Regions from separate parts of the Homo sapiens genome. Here region 2 is linked to region 1. The links come from fine-mapping of genetic effects on gene expression. Tissue or cell type: sigmoid colon. Region 1 holds a variant in brackets; the other region holds the start of a gene. All regions are shown on one strand. Distances are between the middles of the regions.

Region 1 (8,518 bases):
TACCAATGGGTTTCAATGAACGGTGTAAAACAGAATCCTACAATTATTTAACCAATCAATTTTGTGCCTTATATGGATGTTATTCTGTCAACTAGAATATTACCCACTAGCCCTCCCGACCCACCCCTGGGAGAGACCTGGTTTGTAACATCAGATCTCTGGGTCATTCTCTCCAGCCTGTAGCATTCTCCTCTCTCCTCCTCTCCAGCATAGACCATGGCTTTTCCACACTTCACTTACAAAGCAACCTTGTTCCTCATGGGATTCGCCTTTCCTTTTTTCTCATTTATTACCTTTGTATTAATGGTTTTGTTTTTTTTTTCCTTCACACTCAAACTACACCCACAACTTTCCCAATTTAAGAAACTTTATCAGGGCCGGCCTCATGGGCATGTGATCTGTGCAATTGCACAGGGCTTCATGCTTTGAAAGGCCCTGTGCTTTGTTTAATGCTCTGCTGTTACTGTCTTGAAATTCTCTATAACTTTTGCCCAAGGACCCTACATTTTCATTTTGCACTGGCCCCACAAAGTATGTAGCCTGTACTGTACACATTTAATCTGCCACCCAACTCATAAATGCCCTAGATTACATTTCCTTGCTGCCAACTCTTTTTTGTCTTCATTAAAGTAGGGCAAACATCTGGTTGTACCAGGCTTCCAACAAATTAGTGGCTCCCAAAGTTTGGCCCACAAAGCTCTTCACACAGTTGGCTGGCTCAAAATGATGACTGCTGCATGGGTGTACTCATATTCTTCTTTCATGAACAATTATGTTTATATTAAAACCAGAGATCATCTCCTACTGTTCCAAAACCAATGCCCTTTCTCTTAGCCATTGTGATAGCTTTTGTGTGTGAAATGTTTGGTCTGATGGCTGTAAATGCCTAAGAGCCACTGATGCAAACCCCCCAACCACACATTTTATCTGGCATCAAGGGTCAGGAGGAGCTCAAGTTCCAGGGTAAGCCTGGAACTTTGAATAAAGCTTTAGAATAAAGCTCTCTGACCTTACATGTTTTAGGAATGAAGAGTTCCAGTATTTTCATATTGGGAAAACAATGCATATTTGTGTAACAATAGAAATTCTATTCTTTCTACTCTACATAGAAAGAGACATCATTTGCAGGAGTAGGTAGCTCTCCTGAAAGAGGAAATGGAATGAAAATCAAGTGAGTTTAGGAAGAGCATTCTTAAACTGAGACGAGTTAAGAATCAGAAATTCTTAAACTGAGAAGAGGAATCCAAGGGCAGCCAGCAATGTGTCACGGGAGTCAAAACCTCTGAGAGGCCGGGCACAGTGGCTCACGCCTGTAATCCCAGCACTTTGGGAGGCCGAGGAGGGCAGATCACGAGGTCAGGAGATTGAGACTATCCTGGCTAACATGGTGAAACCCCGTCTCCACTAAAAATACAAAAAATAATTAGCCAGGCGTGGTGGCGGGAGGCTGAGGCGGGAGAATGGTGTGAACCTGGGAGGTGGAGCTTGCAGTGAGCCAAGATTGCACCACTGCACTCCAGCCTGGGAGACAGAGTAAGACTCCATCTCAAAAAAAAAAAACAAAAAAAAAAAAAAAAAAAAAAAAACACCTCTGAGAAAAGTCTAGAGAGTCACTATCACTCATTGCAATTAATCTGGAACATTACTTTTAATATGGTAATAAATATTTTACAGCATAATGTAAAATTCCCACAAATTTTTGTAAATATAAGACTTCAGAGCTATTTCGGCTGAGATGCCATTGCTTGAGCTCCTGCCCAGGTGTTCCTCTTTCATCCTTCTCTGCTGCTAAAAACACTTCAGTCAACAAATTTGCAATGCTCTGTTCTGCTACACCCAAAACCACAGCCAAATAAGACAAGGTCTCACAGACTGACAGTCCTGTGCTTTGTATTTAGAGAAAATCAACTATCCGGTAGAGATAGAGGTTTCCAGAACCTATAAAAATGTCAAGCATCAAAGGCTGAAGTTTAGTCTCTCTCACTTTGGTAAAGCCCTAAGTGGAAGTCTGAAGTCAGCAGAGTAGGGTGGGATTCAGTGTTGGTCACGTTCCTTACACATGCTGTCACTAATCCTCTAAGTGAACCTGGCCACATGAGCAATGGACAGGCTCATCACTCAAGTCCACATTTCCATGGATACTGTCTGAAAACACAGTAAGATAAATTCCTCTGGCTGGCTTCTCATTGCTAAGCACCTGGTAATCCTGACCATCCACCTTTCAGTCCTTACCAAAGAAGCAGAATGACATGGAAGCAAAATCACATAATCCAGAGCCCAGAGGCCTGAGATCAAGTCATGGCTCCACCATTGGCTCAATGTATCTGGGTTTCTGCACATGTAGAACAGAAACAATACCTGACCACCTATGGGGTTGTTGCAAGGACCAAACTAGACAAAAGCACTACGTAAACCCCGAAGATGCTACCAATGATTCTATCATTCTTTCTGCTTTGCTCACTGATTCAGCATCCCCCAACATTCCAGTCCTCTGGTGGATGAAGCAAAAATACATCTTTGAGTTTCCACTTTTTCTTACCACCCTCGTGCCATGTCACAGAAATTCATTCAACATTTCATGAGCAAATGCTTCACCTTTCAAACACTGATAAAATTTACCTCCGAATAGCAGACTCTTTGCCTTCATGTTCTAGACACTCGGTTTAAATGTCACTGTAACTTGGTATTTAACCCTCTAAAAAGTATCTAAATACCTCAACATGAACTTTTTCGTTAAAAGATTTAAATCTATAAATCCAGCTGAGCTATGGTGAATGAGGGAAGCAGTGCTTCTTTATTGTCCACACATTTGTCAAAGTTTCTGTGGGAAAGAGCTCATCCTGGACCTCAGGTCTTGACCAGAGATGACCAATCCTTGGGTGGAAAGATGCAAACATGGGCTCTTTACTTCAACACGTAAGTGCTTGGAATAAGATTTCTATACAGAGATGACATCCCAGCCACCCCGGTGATGGGGTTCAGGATGTGCTATCCTACAATATGGCACATTGGCATTTGAGAAAATGACAGAGGCAGGAAGGTCACTCTCACCTTCCTCCCACTTTTCTCCCCCAAACAGGTCATACAACCCAGGAAAGATTTCCTGACCCTCCTCTAAACCAGGTCATAAGACTTTCATGTGAAAGGATAAAGAAAATGTGGTTCATTAACACAGTGAAATACTACTCAGTCTTTAAAAAGAAGGAAATCCTGTCATCTGTGACAACATGGATGAGCCAGGAGGACCTTATGTTAAGTGAAATAAGCCAGGCACAGAAAGAGAAATATAGCCGACAAAGACCTATCCAACTAGAAAGGAGACCAGTATTATAGGCCAGAAACAGCACTGAGCTGAAAGCCAAAGAACTTTAGTTCTAGTACTGAATCTTTTCTAGTTAGCAAGTTTCGCCCCTTAGTCTCAGTTACCTCAGCTTGAAATTATGAAGTTGAATTCTATGATTTCTAAATTCCTTTCGAGTTCTAAGATCCTATTATAAGCAGCATTATTTTTCCACTCCAAAACAAAACTAGGTAAGAGACTATCCATTGGCAGAGGGTAATTCCTGATAAGTTTCATATATTCTGTTGAGAGATATCTCCCTTTCCTGTTAATGGAGGGAAAAAACTCAAACAATGAAGTGGTTCAGGAAATGTTTACCAGAACAAGATGGACTAGATTCTTCAGTGGGCAGCCGTGAAATGAAACA[G/A]AAACATTTTAAGTGCTTTATTACTCTAGCAGAAGGAAGAAAACTATTCTGTCCTTTTAAAGCCTTGACCCAGGAGAAATTATCAGCAATTAAAAGTTATTGTTTTCCAAAAGGGAAAGAAAAAAGCCATCTCCTACCAAAAAATAAATTCTAAGAAGGTTATGTTTCCAGTTACTAGGAAAAGAAGCCTCATTCTTACTCCTTCTTTCTCATCTTTTAAGTGTAAGTATTTCCAAATCTCCTTAAAGTCAAGCAACATTTCTCCCTACAAACTCATTAAGTTGGTTGTTATTTTTGGAATTAGTTAATGAATATTTTCCTATGATTATACAAAACCAGAATCTCACCCTCTTGGATTCTTCTTAATATTCATAGCCCTCTCTTTTCAGGAAGTGAATGGCCATTATCACTAAAAGAAGTAAAAGGAATATAAAAACTGAAATCTGTGTTTAGATGCTATGTCTCATGCATACTGGTAATGCTCAGTGCAACTTATCAAAGGCTCAGAAGGGAATTCTTTCAGAATGCTGCCACCAAATGGGTTGTAAAGGGTTTCCTTATTTGGGGTTCCTGGGGAAGCAGTTTTGTGGATTGTTGTGAAAGGAAAAAAAGGTGTAAGCCTCAACATCTTCAACCTCCTTAAGCTCTCTGTTATGAGCGGAATGTTTATGTCCCTCCCAAAGGTCATGTGTTGAAACCCTAACCCATAGTGCAATGATATAAGATGGTGAGGCCTTTGGGAGGTAATTAGGTTTAGATGAGGTCATGAGGATGCAGACGCCAGGTTGGGATTTATCTTATTATAAGAACAGGAAGAGACACCAGAATTTCTCTCTGCCAAGTGGGGACACAGTAAAATGCAGGCAATGCAAGCCAGGGAGAGGGCCCTCACCAGAACCCGAATATGGTGGCACTCTGATCTCAGACTTCCCAGCCTCTGAAACTATGAGAAATAAACGCTTGTTATTTAAGCCACCCAGTCTACGGTATTCTGTTACAGCAGCCCAAGCTGATTAAGACATTTTTCTCTTCTTATCTGTAAAATAATGGATTTGCACAAAATGATTGGAGATTTTCTGGGAGCTTCAACAGTCTGTAATAATAAATAGAACAGTTACCACAGAATTAGAGTAAGAGAATTTCAAGTTAATCACTGGCTCACACAGACGAGAGATGCCAAGTGACATGCTGAGAAGGCATATGTAAGAAATCAGAATAAGTGATTGCTGATGAATCCTAAAAGAAGAAGCCACCATAAGTCAGTACACAGGAAGAGAGGCTTGATGGAACCACTGTTTGAGTCAGAAGATTCAAGTGTGTATGGGAGTTGGAGTGGCTGTAGTAAGGTTCTCAAGGAGGGCATGCTAGGTCTAACATTATATGTGTCCTCTGCAGATAACCTTCATCTGCATCTCACACACTTGAACATCGGTGCAATAAAGAAAGGCTGTAATACCAACAAGGTTTCCAAGGAAACCAACTCTAAGAACTTTGCAAACTTCTTTAAGTGCTGAATGTCTTTTCATACCTACTTGCTGCTCTGTATTTGTTTCTTAGGGCTGGGTGGCTTAACAACAGAAATTTATTTCTCACAGTTCTGAAGGCTAGTAAGTCCAAGATCAAGATTTTCGCCAACAATTTAGTTCCTGGTTAGGGCCTGATTCCTGGCTTGCAGGCACTGGCCTTCTTACTGTGTCCTCACATGGTGGAGAGAGAGAAAAAAAAACTCTAGTGTCTTTTCTCATAAGGGTGCTAATCTCATTGGACTGGGACCGCACCCTCCTGACCTCACTTAACCCTAATTACTTCCTAAAGGCCCCATCTCCTAACATTACATTGAGGGTTAAGGCTTCAAAACATCTGAATTTGGGGTAGGGGGAACATTCAGGCCATAATATTCTTCCTCTGGGCTCCCAAAATTCATGTCCATCTTGAATGCAAAGGTGGTGGGGCTCTCACAAAAAGCCTTGGGGGCAAGACGGCCCCAGAGCCAAGGGCATGATGCTGCTACCTTAATGGGGACAGAAGGCAGAGTACTGAACCAAAGAAGATTATTCTTAAGCCTTAGCATCTAATCGAATTTTCCTTGCTAGGTTTTGGACTTGCTTGGAACATGTCATCTCTTTTTTCTGATTTCTCCCTTTTAGAATGAGAATATCTATATAACCTATGCCTGCATCATCAATGGATTTTGAATGTGCATAATTTGATTTCACAGGTTCACAGATGGAGAGGAATTTTGCTTCAGGATGAATCGTACCTTGAGTATCACCTATACCTAATTTAGATGGTATTTAGATGAGACTTTGGAGTTAAATCTGGAATGAGTTCTTCCCTGTGAGAGCCCAGTCTCCTGGCTCTCTGGAAAGGCCCACCCCATGTGATTCTCTAAGGGAGAATGAAGTCATGGGCAGAGGCATCCTGGCCAGCAAAAACTAGAATGGCCACCCAACCCTTTGAAACAGATGAGGAACCAGCCCTGCCCCCTTGACCTGTGGTAAGAGTGGCAGCTCTGATGCTCTCCAAATTGCCTTTGGGATTATTCTTCCCTTTTCTTGAAAGATAAAGCATGTTCACAGCCAAATGGCCCCATCATCCTATCCTGACAATGTACGAAGCCCAATATCCTGTTTTTTTTTTTTTTTGCTTTTTAATAATTTTTTCTAATTTTGTTACTTTAATTTCCCCATAGCACCTTGGCGATGGCCCAACATCCTTCTTTCAGTCACTCCTGTTTATTTCTGCCCCCTTTAGTCCCAGCTGGCAACATTTCTCTTGGTATAATCCCATCCCCATTCCCGGCTTCTGTTGAAATAGCTGATCAAATCCTTCATTCACATCCATACTATCTCCTTATCAAATAGTGTTCAGCCACACCCTTAGTGTTCTTTTCAGAATAATCTTTCTCATTCTTTGCAATATGGATAGCCTAAGAATTTGCCAAATCTTCAAGTTCTGGTTCCTTTTTGCATAGGAATTCCTTCTTAAATTCATTTCTCTTTTCTCCATTTTACTAGAAGCAGTCAGGAAGAACCAAGGTACTCCTTCAATACTTTGCTTAGACATTTCCTCAGCTAAATATCAACTTCACTGCCTGCACTGGAACACAAACACAATGCAATCTAGTGCTCTGTCACTTTATAATAAAGTAGCAGTTTCCTCCAGTTTCTAATAACCTGTTTCTCATTTCCTTCTGAGACCTCACCAGAACCGCTTTTAATGTCCATATTTCTACCAGCATTGCATTCATGATTACTTAAGTATTCTCTACAAAGATGGTGGTTTTCTCTCCAGCTCTCCCCTTTCTTTCTAAGCCCTCACCAAAATTGCCTTTAACATCCATATTTCTAGCACACACCTCAAAACTCTTCCATGCTCTACCCATTATCCAGTTTCAAAGCCACTTCCACATTTTTAGATATTTGCTTATGGCAGCACACCATCCTTGGTACCAAAGTAAAATACTCCTAACAAAATACCAGTCTAGGTGGCTTAGACAATAGAAATTTATTTCCCACAGTTTGGAGGCTGAGAAGTCCAAGATCAAGGTGCTGGTTGATTTGATTCCTGGGGAGAAAACACATCCTGATTTTTCAGGCAGCCATCACGCCTTATTGCTGTATCCTCTGTTGGGGTTCAGAAAAAAATCCTCAAAATATGGCCCTTTGGCATGCTGAGCGCTTTGAACAAATGTGATTTAAAAGCCTCAGAATCAAAGTCTCTCTCTGATCTTCTCCTGATCCAGCCCGCCACCACCTCTTTCCTTTTTGAAATGCAGGGAGGTTCATGTATCTGACCAAGGGAAGATTTTCCAGAAGGATTGCAATTGTCTTGATCCACCTCTTTAGGAAGCTCATCAAACAACCAGGGAAGATTAATCACTGCAGAAGATATTAAAAGTCAACACCACACCCAGACTGGCTACTACCTATTCTTCTGGAGGCTGCTCCAAAACAACTTTTATTACCTGAGAGGCTTTATCTGAATAATAACACAAACTTTGTTTACAGTTTAGTTCCACCCCTCACCTTCCCAGAGGAACTTTGTCCTAAGCTGTTGTCTGTTCTTTGGGTTCATTTATTTCCCCTAAAAATCATGTATTCTTCCTCTAAAATTACCTACATCCCCCACCTCCCTCTCCCCTATAGAATAGTTAAACTTTAGCCTTCTGGTCCTTTTGAGTTTCCTATTTTGTGTGGCTCCTGTGTGCTTGCACATTAACAAATATGTTTGCCTTTTCTCTTGTTAATCTGTCTATTGTCAGTTTGTTTTACAGAATCAAATTATTAAATCTTCATGGGGTGGAAAGTTCCTTCTGCCCCTACACCTTAAATGTTGAAGAGACAGAGGCAAAATCTCTGTTGTCTCTTTTTATAAGAGCACTAATTCCATTGGACCATGGCCTCATCTCCATGACTTCATCTAACCTATTTACCTCCTAAAGGCCCCACTTCCAAATATCATCACATTGAGAATTAGAGTTTTAACATATAAATTTTAAGAGAGATACAAACTTTTATTCCATAATATGCGTCTCTACACTCACAAACTTAAAGCTAAATAAGCCATTTATATATTAATGCCAATATCTATGAGTTTGATCAAATGATAGCAACCAAATAAGCTATTTCTGATACATATTTCTGTTATAATATTACAGACTAGAACAGAGAAGAACAAGAATCACCTATTGCAAATATCTGTAAGATGTAAGAAGACTGGATCTTGCTTATAATGGGACAGAGAGGATTAACAAATGAATGTCAGCAACTTTTCCTCTCTCATTTGTGTGAAAGGGGACTCTGGTTTCA
Region 2 (8,518 bases), 43 kb after region 1:
TCCTTTATTTTCTCCATCTCTTTCTGATGAGAAAGTGTCACACCAACATCTTGCAATTATTAGCCTTAACCAAACAACAGCTTTTATCTTTCCCTAGTAGACACTGACCTGTGCTTTTATTAAGCAGAAACAGGATACTGCACTTCAGAAACATCCTCACATCATTTTTTTGCAAAAGCATGCTTCATTGTGAAAGAGATGGTGTCTTTGGGGGTCATCCCATACTCCACAAAAGGATTCCAAACTCCCATTTGCAAAGTGAGGTTTTTAACTGAGGCACCTGAGCAGTGGATGCTCTAATCTACCCACTAGAGAGATGGGTGAATTTTTCACTCGAATTGCATGACTTCAGACAAAATGGTGCACATCCTCCCCTAATTCCTGTCACTTCTGAGTCATTGGCTCTTCCTTGAGAAGAAATGGAGCTATGCCCCAGGACTTTACAGATTGAAATAAATCAGAGGTTTTGAAGTCCATCCTTGGAGTTCTGAACGGCTCTGTGTGGTTTAGAAACTATTTTTCACAGGAAAGTTTTCACTAAGGGGATATGCTAGTCACAACTCCGCAAGATGAAAATGGGAGTTTCCAGAGGTCAGACAGTGCCTCAAGGTGGTAGGAGGAGGGTTGGAGCAATGGCCTGGGAAGATAAAGAAGACCCTCGGGTCACCCTGATTAATGTGACTTTCAGAGCAAACAATTTACCTACAAACATTTCTCCCCTAGTTTGTGGGTAAATGCGAGAATTTTACATCAAACAGGCTTATTACCAATACAGTACAGCTCAGCTGACTACACAATTTTTCATACAAAGAGCCAGCATTTGTCAAGCTCCTGGTATATTCTGGACACTGTACTTCATACATTGACACAAATCAAAGCATTGCAAAATGAAATAGGGTTCAGCCTGCCCTTATAAAGAAAAAAGTTACATACGCAACTAAACCCCTCTGGTTTGTGGGGTTCAGGGCAAAAGTACAAAGCCCCGCACCCATAGTTATTTTCTAGTGTTAATCAAGCTAGCAAATTCTCACGTATTCCTCCTCCCTTGACAAAGGTAGCTTTATAACAGCCTAGAAGGCCAGGGACAATTTAGAATTTTCAGACTTTTCAAAGTTATGGGTCAGACACAGAAATAGCAGACCTGGCCAATGAACAGAGCCCCTTCCCTTCCCCACCCAAGCTCCCTCTCTCCTAGGGGGGCCTCTTGGGCACCCACGGGGACTCCCTCCACTCCTACCCAGCCCACATTTCCAAGCACTTTTACGCCCCAGCAAACAGCTGCCCCTTTGTGAGCTCTCCAGGGATCAGGTCTGCCTTCTTTTCTAGGGCTCAGGCCTTAGAAGCTGGTATGGGTCCCTTTGGGCTGGGTATTCATTCCATCCAGGTCTTGGGAGGGAGGGGGCAGCATGGTCTCTGGGTAGCAAGCCCCTTTGGACCTACAGACTTCCAGCTCTGTGGGGAGGGGCACACCCCCCCCCAACCCCCAGAAGGCCAGACTGGGCCCTTTAAACCCAGGGGATAAGGATAAGGGGGTTCTTCCGCCCAGGTCTGAAGGCCATACTGGCTGAGAGCCTTCTCTATATTACACTAACTAGATCAACTTTTTCTTTCCTTGAAGCTTTCTGGGAGGGTGATTCCTATACAAGGAATAAAGATGAATAAATAGATGGTATAAGAGAAGATTCCTGTTCAAAAGGGGTGAAAGAAAAAAAGTTGAAATCTTTGTGGCTATCTAGAAAAAAATTGACAGCTGATATCATGGTCTGAAAGGTAGAAAAGGTAAAATATTCCTCAAACAGCAAATGTGTTGACAGCGTTCTAGAAAGTCTGAGATGGGATCCTTGCCTCATGGCATAACTTGGGCAAACCTTAAACTGTGTTCTTTCTGTGTTTGAAAGTGGATGTCCTACCCAGACCTTTGCAGAGACACCAAAAGAGCTGGATGAAGACCTGCCAGAGGCACCAGGGCAGCCAAGCTGAATCCTAGGACGTGGACACACTGAGTCAAGCTGGGCAAGGGAGGTTTGGGTCCGCTGCAAACACAAAGGCCTGAGGGACCCCCATGGGAGGCAGGCATAGGAGCTCACGGTCAGAGGAGCAGCAACGGCATGGGCTTCACCCCCACAGCTGACCTAGCATCGGCTTTGCCTTTTCTCAATCAGGGCAAGTTGGTCAGTTCTCCAGGCCTCCATGTTTTAATTCTCTAGAATAGCGATATCACCTGCCCGCATCACCAGGTGGTGATGCCCTTAAGAACTTAGCACGATCTGGCACATGGTAAATTCTCAAGATGCTTCATCTAGAACTGAAAGCGTACGGGTCAGAGCTAGCGCTGAACCCAAGATGTGGGTCACCACAGACCCCAAGCTGGGTGTGCTGCGGGCGGAGGAGTGGACGGGGTTTTGAGGAGAGGGGCACACCGGAACACATAAGGTACAGCGGTCAAGAGGTTAAGTGTTACAGGTCCCTATCCTGTTTTGGGGCAGGGGAAGGTGTTGCTTTTGCAAGTCGCCCAGCCAGAGATGGAAAGAACAGGCACCTAAGGCCCCAAGTTGCTGGCATCCGTGAGCTCCGAGGGGGAGAAGGACGAAGCCGCCCTGCACCCCGCTGGGCTCCAGGGCCGCGCGGGTGCCAGTGGAGAGGCCGGGAGGGCTCGGAAGAAAAACGCCCGGCTCACTGGAGTCGGAGACGCAGCCACTCACCCAGCAGCAGCAGCTTAAGCTCACGGCGCGCGTCCTTCTTGTCCCGACGAAGCTGTCGCTCGATCTCCGCGCTGATGCGCTGCGACTCCTTCTCCTCCGCGGACAGGCAGCAGCAGCCGGCCATGGTGCGCTCAGCTCAGTACCCGACGGGGCGACGCGGCCCCGGGCACCCGAATCCTCGGCCCGGCCGCTCACCCGGCCAGCATGCGACGGGCACAGGGGTGTGGAAAGAAAAGACGGGGGCCGACTTGAGCTTTGGAGTAAGACGCCTGGACCTCCGAGGCTCAATCCCCCTTCGAAAGTCGGCTCTGAGGCGGGGTGAATGCCGAGCGCTGGGAACGCTCGAGTGCACCCCGGATCCGGGCTCAGCCCGCCCCACTCTCGCTCTGGGGAGGAGGAGGGCGAGTCGAGAAGTTGGGAGCGTTGCTGGCCCCGGGAAGATGCGCGCGCCCCTTGGCACAGGAGCCGGACAGCAGTCGGGGGCGCAGACGAGTTGGAACGTCGGTGCTCGGGGGAGAGTAGGATCTCCTGGGCCTAGGGGTGTCCCCAGGCGGGAGGTAGGCGCGGAGTGGGTTGGAGGCAAAGGACCTGGCTGGCCTTTGCCTGGAAAGTTCTGAAAACCTCAGCAGTGACCGCAGACTAAGACTGAGTGGAAAGGTTCCCGCTAGCGTTTGTGGCTCTAAGTGGCAGGAGGAGGCGGAGCATCTTGAACCTGCAGCCCTGGCGTCTGCTGGACTTGCCCTTCTGGGCACCCCAAGCCGAAGGCGCCTGGAAGTGAAAGGGGACGAGCAGGGGGCGCGGAGCTGGGGGTGGGAGCTGGCACCTCTAGGAGCAGCTCCCACACTTGCCTCCCTGGCTGGGGCGTCCCGGCCAAGGTTTGCTGTAATCTGCGCGTCTGGCCGCCAGGCACCGGGTTCCGACAGGTGAGTGAGTTTCGCCAACTCACTCGCTCGGAGAAGGCGGCAGCAGGCTGGAAGAGGAGCGGCGCCAAGCGTCTGTTGCGGGACACAAAGCCCCGGACCTGAAGTGGAAGCTTGCCCACCAGCTTCACCACCACGCACACCCGGATTTCCTAGACTGGCTCCTTCCGCTTCCCGGACGCCCCGGCCCAGCTCGGGCTTGGCCAAAGCCCTTGGTCAGCTCGGCAATTTGCCTGTAAAGTGTGGCTGGGCCTGAGCCTGCTGGCTCTGAGCTCGGAGAAGGAGCCGCCGCTGGGTTCAGTTATAAGAGAACTGCAAGAGCCCAGGGTAAATATCCTCTCGGTCTCCGGACGAGGGGGCTGGGGAGAAAGGGAACGGCTGATTGCTTTGCATTTTATGATGGGAAAGACACCTGCTTTGTAGAAAGGGCTGATACGTTCCTAGTAGCACCTGGCAAGTTTCCTGCCCAGCCCTGAAGCCTAACAGCCGCCTTGCGATTGTGTCCGCACTGACACCTTGGCCTGTATCCTGGACCGTCGGGGTCAAGTTTGAGCAGCATTAATAAAAACTTTAAAAGCACCTCTTAGTACTTAAGTGACACGATAAAATGCATATTACAACATCTGACTTTTGTCTGTGTAGATTTTGATGCAGAAAAGGGAAGGTGGGGAGAGGGGATCCTATTGGCCACAGCAATGAACGTTCTTTCCTTCTCAAGTCAGTATAGGCCATATGCTAATGGGGCGTTAGGCAATTAGCTAGCGCTTCCTCTACTAAGAGCAGGCATAAGTGCCTTTCATTTGAGTAGCATATATTTTATAAATTCAAACTGAGGAGCACATTGAGTGGAATGGTACGTGTCATTATATAAAGAAGTTGGTATCGCGATGCTATCTGGCTGCATGTTCTTATTATTTTACAGTTTAAGAAATGTAGAGGAATCAGACATTAAAAATGTGCATACATGCTTTAATGTGTGACTATTTTAGTTTTCTTGCAGGCATAAATTGACAGTAACAGTGACCCCTACAGGAAAACTCCTGGACATTTCAGATTTGATCTTTGGCCATTTAATAGCCTGTTTCTTCTCTCTTAGCTCTTACGGATTCATTTACAATTTGAGAATAAGATCTCTTGGCTTCTCAAAGTCATGGTTGCATCATAATTGTTATCATTTAAAAATTATAAAAAATTTTTAAATGATTAAAACTAGGGCAAATTTGAACTCTTACGTTAACGGGAATTACTGATACTGACCTATTAGGTTTAAAGTTGGCAAGATTTCAAAAACAGTTATGAAACATATTGATTAGGGCAAATCTGTACAACTTTCCTGGGCTAGTCAGCTTGGCAGTATATATCTGAAGCCTTAAACATGTCCGTCCCCTTCGGCCAAACCAGTAATTTCTCCCTTAAGAAATAACTAGAAAGAAGCCTCATGACTGATGCAAAGGTTTTATTGCCAATACAACAACAAAAACTCACAACCTAAATACCTAACAACAGGGAAGAGATCACTTAAATCATGGTTTATCCATACAATGAGATGTTTTGGAGCCATTAAATATGTGGATATGCGAGTAGTAAACATGTGAATAAATTTGGAGAAAATCCTCAAAATATATTGAATGAAAAAGGCAAGATCCAAAAATATAAAGAGTATGATAAGATTTTAGTATAAGAATACGCATACACATTTTTAAGAGACTGAAGGGACACACATCAAAAAGGTAGCTTGCTGTGAGTCATGGCTGTTTGGTTGATTTTCATTGTTCATTAGAAAATTTGGGCTGGGTGCAGTGGCTCACGTCTGTAATCCCAGCACTTTGGGAGGCCGAGGCGGGCAGATCACCTGAGGTTGGGAGTTCGAGACCAGCCAGCCTGACCAACATGGAGAAACCCCATCTCTACTAAAAATACAAAATTAGTTGGGTGTGGTGGCACATGCCTGTAATCCCAGCTACTCGGGAGGCTGAGGCAGGAGAATTGCTTGAATCCGGAAGGCAGAGGTTGTGGTGAGCCAAGATCACACCATTGCACTCCAGCCTGGGCAACAAGAGCCAAACTCCGTCTCAAAAAAAAAAAAAAAGAAAGAAAAAATTTGGGGCAGCTTGCATAAAATTATTTAGGCTCCACTTTCCTTAACTATAAGATGAGAGGGATAAGCCAGAATAAGCTCAAAAGGATCACCCAACTCTAACATGCATTATTTCTTTGATGACATTCACACTTATCCAAAATAAATTTATTTAAAAATAATCAAAAACCTAAAGTTGTTATTGAGCATCAGCCACTGGTAAGAAACAGAAAACTGGGATATCACAAGTCAATCATTTTTATACTTCTATGTTTTATTCATCTCTGTTTTCCTTATCTGTAGAATCTGGAAGGTAAAATGATAATAATTTTAAGATATTAATTCATTGGAAACATCTTTCCAGGAAGGGGTAGTTTTGAGAAGAGTTCTCAATAAAAGAGAATATTTATTTTCCTAAGTTATTTCAAAAAAGCTGCAATTTTATTTTATTCATCTTGAAGACGAGAGCGCAGACTGGACCTGAGTTTCAGATATCCACCAAGTGTGGGGCTACAGGGGTGAGCTAATTGTCTGATATCCCTCTGAATGTCCACTAGGTCCATACCAGCCCCTGTACCAGGCAGTGAGGATTCAGGTAATAAGACAATTCCAGACTTTCGGTAGAGCTATAGTCTAGTAGAAAGAAGTAAAACTGAGACCCTGAAATCTGAACCTACCCCTTCCTGCTTCCTTCCAGAGAACAGTGAGAGCACAGAGTCACCTGAGGGCGCTCCCCAGGCCTACAGATATGCACAGCAGCCTCATCTTCCATCACTCTCCTGGAACTCTAGACAAATGGAATTTTCTGTTCTCCCTACCTCCTGCCTCCATGCCTCGGTGCATGCTGTTCCATCTTCCAGGAATACCATCTCTTACCCTAGGCAAAATTAGGTAATTTCTTTTTCAATTACATCTCTTCTGAGGAAGCAACTCCAGCCCTTGTCAGTTACATCCATCTTTCCCTACTGCTGGAACACTGTCAACATCTCACTCTATTACACCCGTCTGTTTCTTCTAATCTATGAGTTACTCACAGGTAAAGAGTTTTTCTTACTTATCCTGGTATTCCTAAATTAGCAAGTTTCAGTTGACTAACCTTAAATACTGAAACCAAGAAGAATTAGTCTGAGATGCAAGAAAAGAAGGTTCTTGTGGTGGAAGACAGTGAAAACCAATAAGCAAGTACAAAACAAATGAATGTATAACTTAGGAAGAACTTGTATATATGAGCTGCCCTCACCTGCCACTGGCCCCCTTAGAGAGAATGACTGCCCTGTTTCTAATTCAGAATGCCAAGGAAATGTGCAAATAGAGGGCTGGAAAGATGCAGTTCACTTTCACAAGTGTATTGTCTCTGAACTTAACAAGTAACATAGAGTAAAAATAGGACCTTGAGGAAGTTCACAAAGCACTAATACTAATGTACCTTTGCTGCTCTATGTCAGCATTTTTCAAACTGCAGTTGTGACACATTCCTAGGGTGTGGCCAATATTTTTTCTTAAGAATAAAATATAAAGAGCCAATATCAAGGTTGCTGTATGTATTATTATTTAATAAAATGTTTTTTAACTTTTTTTTTTTTAAGAGCCAGAGTGTCTGTCACTCAAGCTGGAGTGCAATGGCGTGATTATGGCTCACTGCAGCCTTGAACTCCTAGGCTCAAGCAGTTCTCCCACCTCAGCCTCCCAAATAGCTAGGACTACAAGCCCATGCCACCATGTCCAGCTATTTTTTTATTCTTATATTTTGTAAACGCAGGGTCTCACTATATTACCCGGGCTGGTCTTGAACTCCTGGCCTCATAGAGTCCCCCTGCCTCAGCCTCCTGAAGTACTGGGATTACAGGCATAAGCCACCACATCTTTAGTTTTATTTTATTTTTAAGCCAAATACCCAGAGTTCAGTGAGAAAAACTTTAGTTTTAATTGTACGTGTATCAACTCTTAAGCAGCTCAGTCATCAGTGGGAGTCTGCTTGTCCATCTCCTGAATGTGTTAGTGTAAATGATTCCAAATTTTCTAATTCATTTTTCTGAATCCAATATGTTCTTTTTTTTTCAGTTTGAGTTCAATGTGTTCTCTAAAATGTTTTCAATCCTTCTTCCCCGTCACTTCTACTCCCCATCCCACCCATTGGCTCTAGTTTGGTAGGTGAGAGTTGATGGAGCAATGATGGATAATGATTGATTGATTGATTGTTTTTAAAAAAATTTTAGATTCAGTGGGTACATGTGCACGTTAGTTACATGGGTATATTTTGTGATGCTGAGGTTTGGCCTTTAATTGAACCTGTCACCCCATTAGTGAACACAGTAACTAATAGGTAGTTTTTCACCCCTTTCCCCTGCCCCCACTCCCCACTATTGGAGTCCCCAGTATCTATTGTTCCCAACTGATGGATATTTAGATGGATGTGTAATACTGATGCTAGTGGTTGCTTGCACTCAACATCTATTTTTTTTAAGGCAATCAACATGTCAACATGTTGCTCTACAATATTCTCTGTCTGAAGACCAGAAATTGTTTATTATATAACTGTTACCGAAAACGCTGGGATGATAGACAATGAAGTCTGCCTTCAAACACACATGACTGTGAGTAGGCAGGAATTGATATTGTTTGTTTTTGAATGTGACTTTTCATTGAAGTTGGGGAATCTCAAGAAGAAATCAAACTCTTTAAAATGTGAAGTTTGGAGGTGATTATTTGGCTTGTTTTCTTTTCCTTTTTGCTTAAATTTCCCCCTCCATTTACATCACTCTCTTCTTGAATGATCCCATGTTAATAACCTAGGATGTATTCTTCACTTCTTTGTGCTC

Evidence for each region. PIP is the estimated chance that this variant, and not a neighbour inherited with it, causes the effect.
Region 2: it holds the start of GNA14, and the variant in region 1 is fine-mapped to the expression of GNA14 in sigmoid colon (GTEx, PIP 0.90).

Annotation. Positions count from the first base shown.
Region 1 is chr9:77,602,396-77,610,913 of GRCh38, forward strand. The region is part of intron 1 of GNA14 (G protein subunit alpha 14); the gene reads right to left. Among named protein-coding and RNA genes, the nearest start is that of GNA14, 42 kb to the right of the region's middle. The variant G/A (reference allele first, on the strand shown) is at 3,708.
Region 2 is chr9:77,644,968-77,653,485 of GRCh38, forward strand. It overlaps GNA14 (G protein subunit alpha 14), which reads right to left and starts at 3,355. Exons shown (of 7, transcript NM_004297.4): 1 at 2,703-3,355. The coding sequence starts at 2,826.